2 separate regions of the Homo sapiens genome follow, and region 2 is linked to region 1. The links come from fine-mapping of genetic effects on gene expression. A gene starts in region 1. The other region holds a variant in brackets. All regions are shown on one strand. Distances are from middle to middle. Region 1 holds the start of FMNL2 (formin like 2). Region 2 overlaps FMNL2 (formin like 2).

The links. PIP is the estimated chance that this variant, and not a neighbour inherited with it, causes the effect.
Region 2: its variant is the best candidate, but not a certain one, in a credible set for the expression of FMNL2 in skeletal muscle (GTEx, PIP 0.61).

Annotation. Positions count from the first base shown.
Region 1 is chr2:152,333,006-152,337,399 of GRCh38, forward strand. FMNL2 (formin like 2) reads left to right here and starts at 2,169. Exons shown (of 26, transcript NM_052905.4): 1 at 2,169-2,715. The coding sequence starts at 2,599. RefSeq lists silencers at 1,969-2,618, 3,129-3,228.
Region 2 is chr2:152,592,749-152,597,142 of GRCh38, forward strand. The region is part of intron 9 of FMNL2 (formin like 2); the gene reads left to right. Among named protein-coding and RNA genes, the nearest start is that of PRPF40A, 120 kb to the right of the region's middle. The variant C/T (reference allele first, on the strand shown) is at 2,232.

The sequences.
Region 1 (4,394 bases):
TGCACATGAGCTGTAACAAATCATATATAATAATAATAATAAATGGAATATACATTTTTAAATGATTGCTTGATTTTAATTCTGTGGGGAGGAAGAGTGCTACAATTAAGGTAATAGAAATGTCTTTTCTTTCCTTTCCCTCCATGCCGTCTCCCCGCAAAGAATTTCCTAAGATTTTGATGGATTCTTATAGAAATTGTACAAGCCTATGGAGTGTTTATTTCTCCTCTTAATAATCACAAATAACAACCAAATATTAGAGATTCCAAACATTGAAATGGCAGGAAAGTTCTTTTGGTTCATAGATTTGCACACTTTTTCCTTGGCTTCCCTCGAAGTGTGAGCTTATGAGAGAGACTAGATGTGATAAGACGTAAGGGGAGAAAAAGGTCTTGGTTACTGGCAGAAATATAGCCGCAGGGAGACATAAATGTAATCAAAAAGGCTTTCTCAACTGCAGAAAAGAATTCCAGCCTTTTTTATCCAGATGGGCAACCCTCTGGGTGGGCTGATTTTGTGAGTCAATCAGATCCAAAGTATATGTCTAGAGATTACAAGGAAATAAATACATTTGTGGGTCAGAAATGTTTCACCTGGTCCGAACTGCTTTCTTTCTCTCTCATTTTCATTAGTTTGGAGTGTGTGTGTATCTAAACCGCCCTGCTTTTCTCTCAGATCAGTAACACATTTGCTATTAACTTTGATACAACACTGCTTTAGAAATACAGGTTACAGTTATTCAGAATTTTAAGTTGAATTTATTTATACTGTCTCCATTCTTTAAAGACTAGAAGTGGTTTAATAGAACATACATGATGTATTTGTGTGTATTTGTGTCATATGCTTTTGGAAAAAGTCACTTGTCAATTCCACAAATAGTTCTTGGGCGTCTACTATGTTTAAAGTATCTTGAAGTTTATAAAGATGAATGAAATGTCCTTGATTGAATCTTGGTGTACTACCTTGTCCAGAAACACTTGCTATTTACTAAAAGGATAACAACCTTACCTGCATATCAAAATCACCTGGGGAGCTTGTTGAAAATACACCGGCCCAGGCTTCGGCTCTCAGCTTAGGGAGATTCTGATAATACGCAGAGCCCAAGGTGTGTGTAGTTTTAACAAAAAGCTTCCCAAGCGAATCTGATACACATCTAGGATTAAGAAACACTGCTTTAAACTAAGAAAGGACTAACTGCAGAAGTTCAGCCACAAGTCAACCAGATGTATGCCCTTAACATTCACATGAGCAGTTGGCTAAAGTCTCTTATAAGGCTATTTCTATTTCCGAGGTTTCAGAACGGGTAGTTATAGTCTGAAATACACCCCAGAGGACAGAGTCAGGTCCAATCTTTTCTGTAAGACACCTTGCTCAAGACTGCTGTGAAGGAATAAGAGAGCTGCAGCCAAAGATCATCCCAAAGTCTCCCAGAACACTCTATCATTATATCCATCTCACATGAAATATGGGTGTGTACATTTTTTCCTTCACTAGATTGGCAAGTATTCCAGCGCAGGGCAAATCTCTTTTTTCTCCCACCAAGGAACACAATATCCCATACATAATAGGTGTTTGACAGGTTTTTTTTTTAAATTGAATTGAATCCTTACCTAGCTCCTAGGGTCTGACTATATATACCCATAAATTATACATCTGTTTATAAAACATTTCAATCACACCAAAGAACATATATATGGAAGAAAGAACGATAAACAAGCACCCATGGACCCACCCCCCCGTTTATGAAACAGAACTTTGCCAGTGCTTTCGAAGTTCCTTACTGAACTAGATCTTTTAAAAACAGCAACGATTTTCTGAATTTTAATCAGAAGGCATGCATTCCTTCATTCATTGATTCGATTCCGTCATGGTCAGACCCGCCTACCAAGTGTCAACATGATATACACGATGTAAGTATTCCACTGTTGGGGTGAGGAGGGTCAAAAGTGACAATATGCTATCTCCAGAGACTACGGATCGCCTTTGCTGCAAATGGTCCCAACCCGGCCTGGCGCTCTAGAGCAGGCGTGGTTTCTGCGCGCGGACACTTTGGAGAGAAACTACGCGTCCCGGCAGTCCGCGGGGCGAGTGGGCGGAGCCGGGCCGGGGGCGGGGGCCGGGCGCCGGGCGAGAGGTGGCATTGTGTAGGGGAGCGCGGAGCTGCATTTGTCTGCTCCAGGTGCTAGCCAGGCAGGCGCAGCCGTGGCCGGCTAGGGCTGGAAGTGTCAGCGGCGGCCGCGGGCCCGGCAGAAGGCCGAGTAGGAGGGACCACGCGCCGGGGGCCGCGATCTCTGGCAGGGGGCGGTGTGCCAGCGGAGCACCATGCACATAGGCGCCCAGCGCCCCAACTACCCCTCCCGAGGAAAAGAGGCCGGGGCCGCGCTGGGGCGGCGGAGAGCATGAGGGAGGCCGGGGGGCGGCTCGGCTTGGAGCGCTGCTAGGGAGCGGTGCGCGCCGCACACCCGCCTGGGCGCGGCGGAGGGCGGGGAGCCGGGCAGGTCGCGCCTGCGGGCGGCAGCCGACCGCCGGGAGCTGTTCTGATTTCCGACGCGCACGCTAGGGGCCCGGAGCAGCCCCCGGCCCCGGCGCGCCGCCGACATGGGCAACGCAGGGAGCATGGATTCGCAGCAGACCGATTTCAGGGCGCACAACGTGCCTTTGAAGCTGCCGATGCCAGAGCCAGGTGAACTGGAGGAGCGATTTGCCATCGTGCTGGTAAGTGCGCGGCGGCGGTCGGGCGCGGGGACCCGGGGCCCCGGGCCGGGCGGCGCAGCTGACCCCCGCCCCTCCCCTTCACCCCGTGCCGGGAGCGAGCCTCCATTCCCGAGGGGGAGGCTCCCGCTTTCCCCTTTGTGGCCCCCCAGCACTCCTCTTCACCCCCCTGGCAGTCCCCCGCGCTCAGTCTCTCGGGGTCCCGGGATGGGGATGGGGGCTCAGGGCCGGCTGCCCAACCAGCCTCGAACCCATTGTCTGGCTGGAGAGGCACCTCACGGCGCGTGTGCCCGGGAGGTGCGGCGTGGGCGTGAAGAGAAGGTGGCGCGGGCTGGGAGGAGGAGGTGGCGAGCCGCTTAGGCTTTTTTTTTAAAAAAAACAAAACAAAACAAAACAAAACAAAACACCCTGAGCCCCTGCGGACCATCCCTCGGGCGGCCAGCCCGGGACCTGCGAAGTCCCCGGCAGATGGGGCGCATGTGGCCGGCCGCGGGCGCCGCGCCGGGCGGTGAGCGGAGGCGAACTTGGAGGGCTCACGTCGCGGCTTGGCCAAGGGGAGCTTCCCCGAAAGGGAAAGCGGAGACCCACAGCAGTGCGGCGCCCCGGCCCTTGGCGAGGAGCAGGGGCATCTGAAACCCAGGCCGGGGAGAACCTCAGCGCGTTCCCTCTAGACTTAAATCTTAAACCACAAAAATGTGGAGTTTTGCGGGGACGTGTTGCGAGCTGTCCTGACTGCACGGGCGACCCCTCCCCTCCTCTTGCACGCCCAGCCAGGTCCCCCGCTCCCTCCTGCATTCCGCTTCTCCCAGCTTTCCAGCTCCTCAAATCCAGGACTCTGAAAACTCCCCTCTTTCTCCCTTTCCTGCTGGGACAGTGTCTGGGCCCCTCCCAGCCGAGGCTTGTGCTGTGAGCTGCAGAGGGTGTGGCGGCTTGCCCCAGCCAGGATCTGGACTGCTGTTGGTCCCCCAGACTACCAGTTTTAGTGTCCCAGCCTCTTCTAAGGGATGTTGGGAGGGACACACACAGGCGAGATTGGGCTCATTCCTACTCCTGACACTTGGACACTTCTCTTTTCCTAGTTGGTTACCTCTAAACTCCACAAGACTAGGCAGCAAGGGAAACTCGTGATCCGGGCAGCCAACGATTGTGCCTGCCTGCGGGTTTTCTTTTCTTCTTTTGTTTTCATGAAAACTTAGAACTTTGGCAGAGGACTCGAGTTCTAGATCAAAAATCGGTTTTCTGAGGTGTGCTCAGCTACAGGACGTTCAAATTGCCTGCCTTCAGGCCTTGAAAAAGGAATGGTTTGGTATGGGAAGTGATGTTCTGGATGGCAGGTTAGCTGTGTGCTCTTTGGGAGAACTGAGCTCTCTCTCCCGCCACCTGGAAACTCTGGTGTGGCCGTCGGGGAGACAGATGAGGTTGCTTGTGTTGCTTTGCATCTCCTGTGATCTCCCACAGCTGCTCCCACCGTTGTGCAAGATGGGACACTGAAATGAAACGGCCTAGGCATAACTCTCAAGGCGGCCTGGGTGCATACTTGACCTGCTTTTCCAGAGACAAACGTTTTTCTTCAAAACCCTCTTCCTACTAGACATATGGTTCTTACCTCCTGGCTCTGGCTTTTTTTCCTCCTGGCTCTGGCTTTTTTGTTTTTCCATCCATGCTGTGGTGCTCTGTGTGTG
Region 2 (4,394 bases), 260 kb after region 1:
GTCTCTAGTAAATGGCAACTCTGGGATTTTTACACAGATCCATTTAACTCAGAGTTCATATACAGCCTTACATAACATGTCTCACATTCCAGGCACTTTCCACACATGTTCGTATATTGTCCTCAATTTTCCACCGAAAAGCAAACCTAATGGGAATGGTTAGAGATTGGATAGATTATTGGGGTGTTTAAAATTACTGGTAAAATTCAGAACAGACCATACTGTTTGTACAGGGCCCAGTGGGAGAAGTGGGTAGGTCCTGAGCAGGGTGATCAGGAAGGGAAGAGACCTGATTTGATGGAGAGAATTCTGGGAGCAGAGAGATTGGCATGAAATCTGTCTCAAAGGCAGCATAAGTCAGAATATATTTGTTCTTTAACCAGGAAAAATATCTGACCAGGGTCCATGTTACAGAACAAAACATGGCAAGAGGCAGGCATGAATGAGGTTCTGAGGAAACAGTGGTGGAGAGACTGGAAACCTGTGATTAAAACAAACAAACAAACAAACAAACACCTCAACTAGAAGATAGATACAAATAGAAGGGAAAAAAGAGAAAGGGAAGAAATTCACAGTTACATAATACTTTACAGTTTAGAAAATGCTATATATATATATTGCATTTGATTCTGTGGAAATCTGCAAAAAGCCTTTTATGTAATTTGGATAAAACTTTAGGAGTATTGTGTAGCTCTGCAGAAAATACAGTAGAGGGGAGAGATGCTGGAGTCTGGAAGACAGGTGGTTCAGTTGTCAAATGACTCAGCCTTGGACCCAGTTTGTGGCCATGGCAATGAATATGAAGCCAAAAAATGAAAGAAAAGGCAATAAGAGATAGGGTGATCCACCGAATATGAGAATGGACACGAGGAGAATAAGAATCTGTTCAAATAATATACACTTAATGAAGAGGAAAGTAGCCCAACTATAGTCAACAAATACAATCTGGGGATTTCTTTTTTCAGGCAAAGAAAATAAAACTTTTTTTTTAATTTATTTTTTTAGTGGGGGTGTAATGCCCGAGGTCAGATTCTTAGCTGTGCAATGAAGGTAATGAATGAGAGAACAAGTTTAAACAGAGGTGACTAGGGAGAGAGAGAGAGAGAGAGAGAGTGTGTGTGTGTGTGTGTGTGTGTGTGTGTGTGTGTGTGTGTGAGAGAGAGAGAGAGAGAGAGAGAGCGAGAGAGAGCCAAATGGGGATTGTAACTAAGTAACTAAGGAGGAAAACTCCCCCACAGGGACCCCAGTCCAGAAGGAAAAGAGTGAAGAGACAAGGTTAGAATGGGCTAGAAGGATGCTCAGAAGAGACCAGCACAGTACAAAGGGGAAGGTGGTCAAGAGGATGAGAGGATTCCTGGTGGGTCTGGTATATTGTGATGTAAGTTTTTGCTTTAGGTGAGAAGTTAGTCAAGTGGTTTTTATATATCTTCCAAGTCTACAATTTTATGATTCTATATAAAACTTTGTGTACACATGCCTATGTATGTAACATGTATTGTGTGTACCTATTCAAATAGTTCCCTCTAAGAAAGATTAAGTGCTTCTTTGACTGCAGATATGAAAACAAGGTACCTAGATAATAAAATGATAGGTGCTTTCATTTTTCAAACAAGAACAAAAACTGACATGTTTGAGGCCAGTTGGCAGGAGAGCAACAATCCTAAAAGAGATCACTATGACTGCAGACAGTATTGTGACTTCCGGCCTAAGTTCCCTTTTATGACTACTTGGAAGGTGGCTGCGTCAATCCCTTGGCTCAAGTTTCATTTCAAAAATCTGCCATGTGTCTAAGGACGTCGCTGTTTCCCTAGACTGAGAGTGAGCTGGCTGTGCTGGCCATGCTGTTAGTACCACCGCACGAGGTACTGTTGAGGACTTGTCTGTGGAAGAAGCATCCCTGGCTTGTGTAGCTTTTGAAAGATGGAGCTTTTGAGTCTTGATTTAAGCTTTTAGTTTCCCAGCTCCCCTGTCCTACCCCAAACTGTTCTGCCCACTGCAGCTCAACAGCCATTCTTTATTCCTTTCAACACAGTGGTATATGTGGCTACTGCCCAGCTCTTTAATTCTATGTATCAGTCTGCCAAGAATATATAGTCAGACTCGGTTTTCATTCACAATTGACTGAAACACACTCACTAGAAGAAAATAGCCCAGTGGTTCCTACTTATGGTCCAACAGTCACTGTCAGTCACCCTTCATCTTGCAGTTGAGCTCTCTGACAAGATGTTCCC[C/T]GCAAACTCTGCGTCACAGGGGAGTGGAAATGGCCAGTCATGGTAACATGAGCTTTAGGCTCTGTGTTGTTTTGGCAGTTTGGTTTTGGCAGTGGAAAATAAGGGCTCCTTCCCTGCCAATAACTGTACTAGCAACACATGTGATATCCCAGATTTACTGGTTCACCACCAAGAACAACACTGAATTTTTCATTTCATTTTCAACTATTTTCCAGGAATAGATGTAAAATTAGTAAATGGTGCTTTCTATGTGGAACGTGTCAAGAACATGTTTAGCACATTGGTAAAAGATAATGATCTTTTTGTTCCTTGTGTATTTGTTCATGATTGATTGATTGATTTGATTGTTGTTGCTTTTGAGGCAGAGTCTTGCTCTTGTCACCTAGGCTGGAGTGCAGTGGCGCAATCTCGGCTCACTGCAACCTCCACCTCCCGAGTTCAGGCAGTTCTCATGCCTCAGGCTCCTGAGTAGTTGGGACTACAGACACGCCACCACGCCCAGCTAATTTTTGTATTTTTAGTAGAGACGGGGTTTTGCCATGTTGGCCAGGCTGGTCTCGAACTCCTGACCTCAAGTGATCTGCCTGCCTTGGCCTCCCAAAGTGCTAAGATTACAGGCATGAGCCACCATGCCCGGCCCATGATTGTTTGATATTATGGTGTCAGGCGTCCCAGACAAATTTGTTTACTTGGGTGGATTCATTCAGTATGAATTTCTGAACTTTGAGGAATGTGTGTTCTATATATTTTTTTTCCCATGCGGAGGAGATCTCTTTCTGTCCCTTTCCCATATTCTTGCTTGAAATCTAACATTCACCTGGCTTTGGGAAAAGAACATCTTCTAGCCTTATAATGAGTCTAATGTGACAGAGTGGGTACATCCCAGAGATAATCAGAGAACAGTTAGGGGCTGTTTCCATCCAACCTGATAAGTACCAGGGATTGTACCTGGCCTTATTAAACAGAAGAATTGCAAGGAAGTCTTTTTTTTTTTTTTTTTTTAGACCAAGTCTCACTCTGCTGCCCAATCTGGAGTGCAGTGGCACCATCTCGGCTCACTGCAACCTCCTCCTCTCAGGTTTAAGCGATTCTCCCGCCTCTGCCTCCAGAACGGCTGGGATTATAGGCATGTGCCACAACGCCTGGGTGATTTTTTTTTTTTTAGTAGAGATGGGGTTTTGCCATATTGGCCAGGCTGGTCTTGAACTCCTGACCTCAAGTGATCCGCCCACCTCGGCCTCCCGCAGTGCTGAAATTACAGGCATGAGCCACTGAGCCCGGCTGTCTTTTTTTTCTACCTTGGAAAATGGTGGAGGGCTCCTTTCTATATGAAGACACTATTGGTCTCTGTGTGATGTGGCTTCATTTTTATGCAGAGATGGTACATTTAGTAGTTCTTTGTATGGTATGGTTGATTCCCAAACAATCTTGCAAGGAATTTTACTATTAGTTATCCATTTATTTGCTTCTTTAGATTTTAGGTTTAAGAATCCATCATCTTTGTAGAAATAGAGGCTATTCTGTAATCCAGTAGTTTCCAACTTTTGGCCCCTGGAGCCCTTTTTATGCTCTTAAAAATCACTGAGGTCCCTAAAGAGCTTTTGTTTATGCAAGTTATATGTTGATATTTTCCATATTAGAAATTACAACAAAATTTCAGGCCAGGCATGGTGGCTCACGTTTGTAATCTCAGCACTTAGGGAGATTGACTCGTAGAAGATAGCTGCATTCTTAGATCTGCTTCTGCGTTTAGTCACTTCTGCTGTTGTTTTTGTTGAAGTAGATGAAGAAAATTTAGCCTCACACAGATATGTAGATGAAATAGAATTATGTCAACAGCATTTTCAGATAATAGTGGGCATTCTTCTTTGATACTATACAAACACTAGACAAGTAGTAATTTCTTAAAGGTTAGTCACAAAGTAGAATCCGAAATCGTATCGATGAACTTTTTCCATACTGTTGCATTAAAATCTATTTGCCTATATTGCACCTTGAATGAATTTATAAATTTGTAACAACATTCAGTGATCATTGGGAAAATAATGGTACACTGAGTTATCTAGATCTTCTAATAATTGGCACATTTCCTAATATACTATTTTAACAAATCACATGCATTATTTTTACCTCCAATCTCATTAGAAAATTCTTTAAATACTG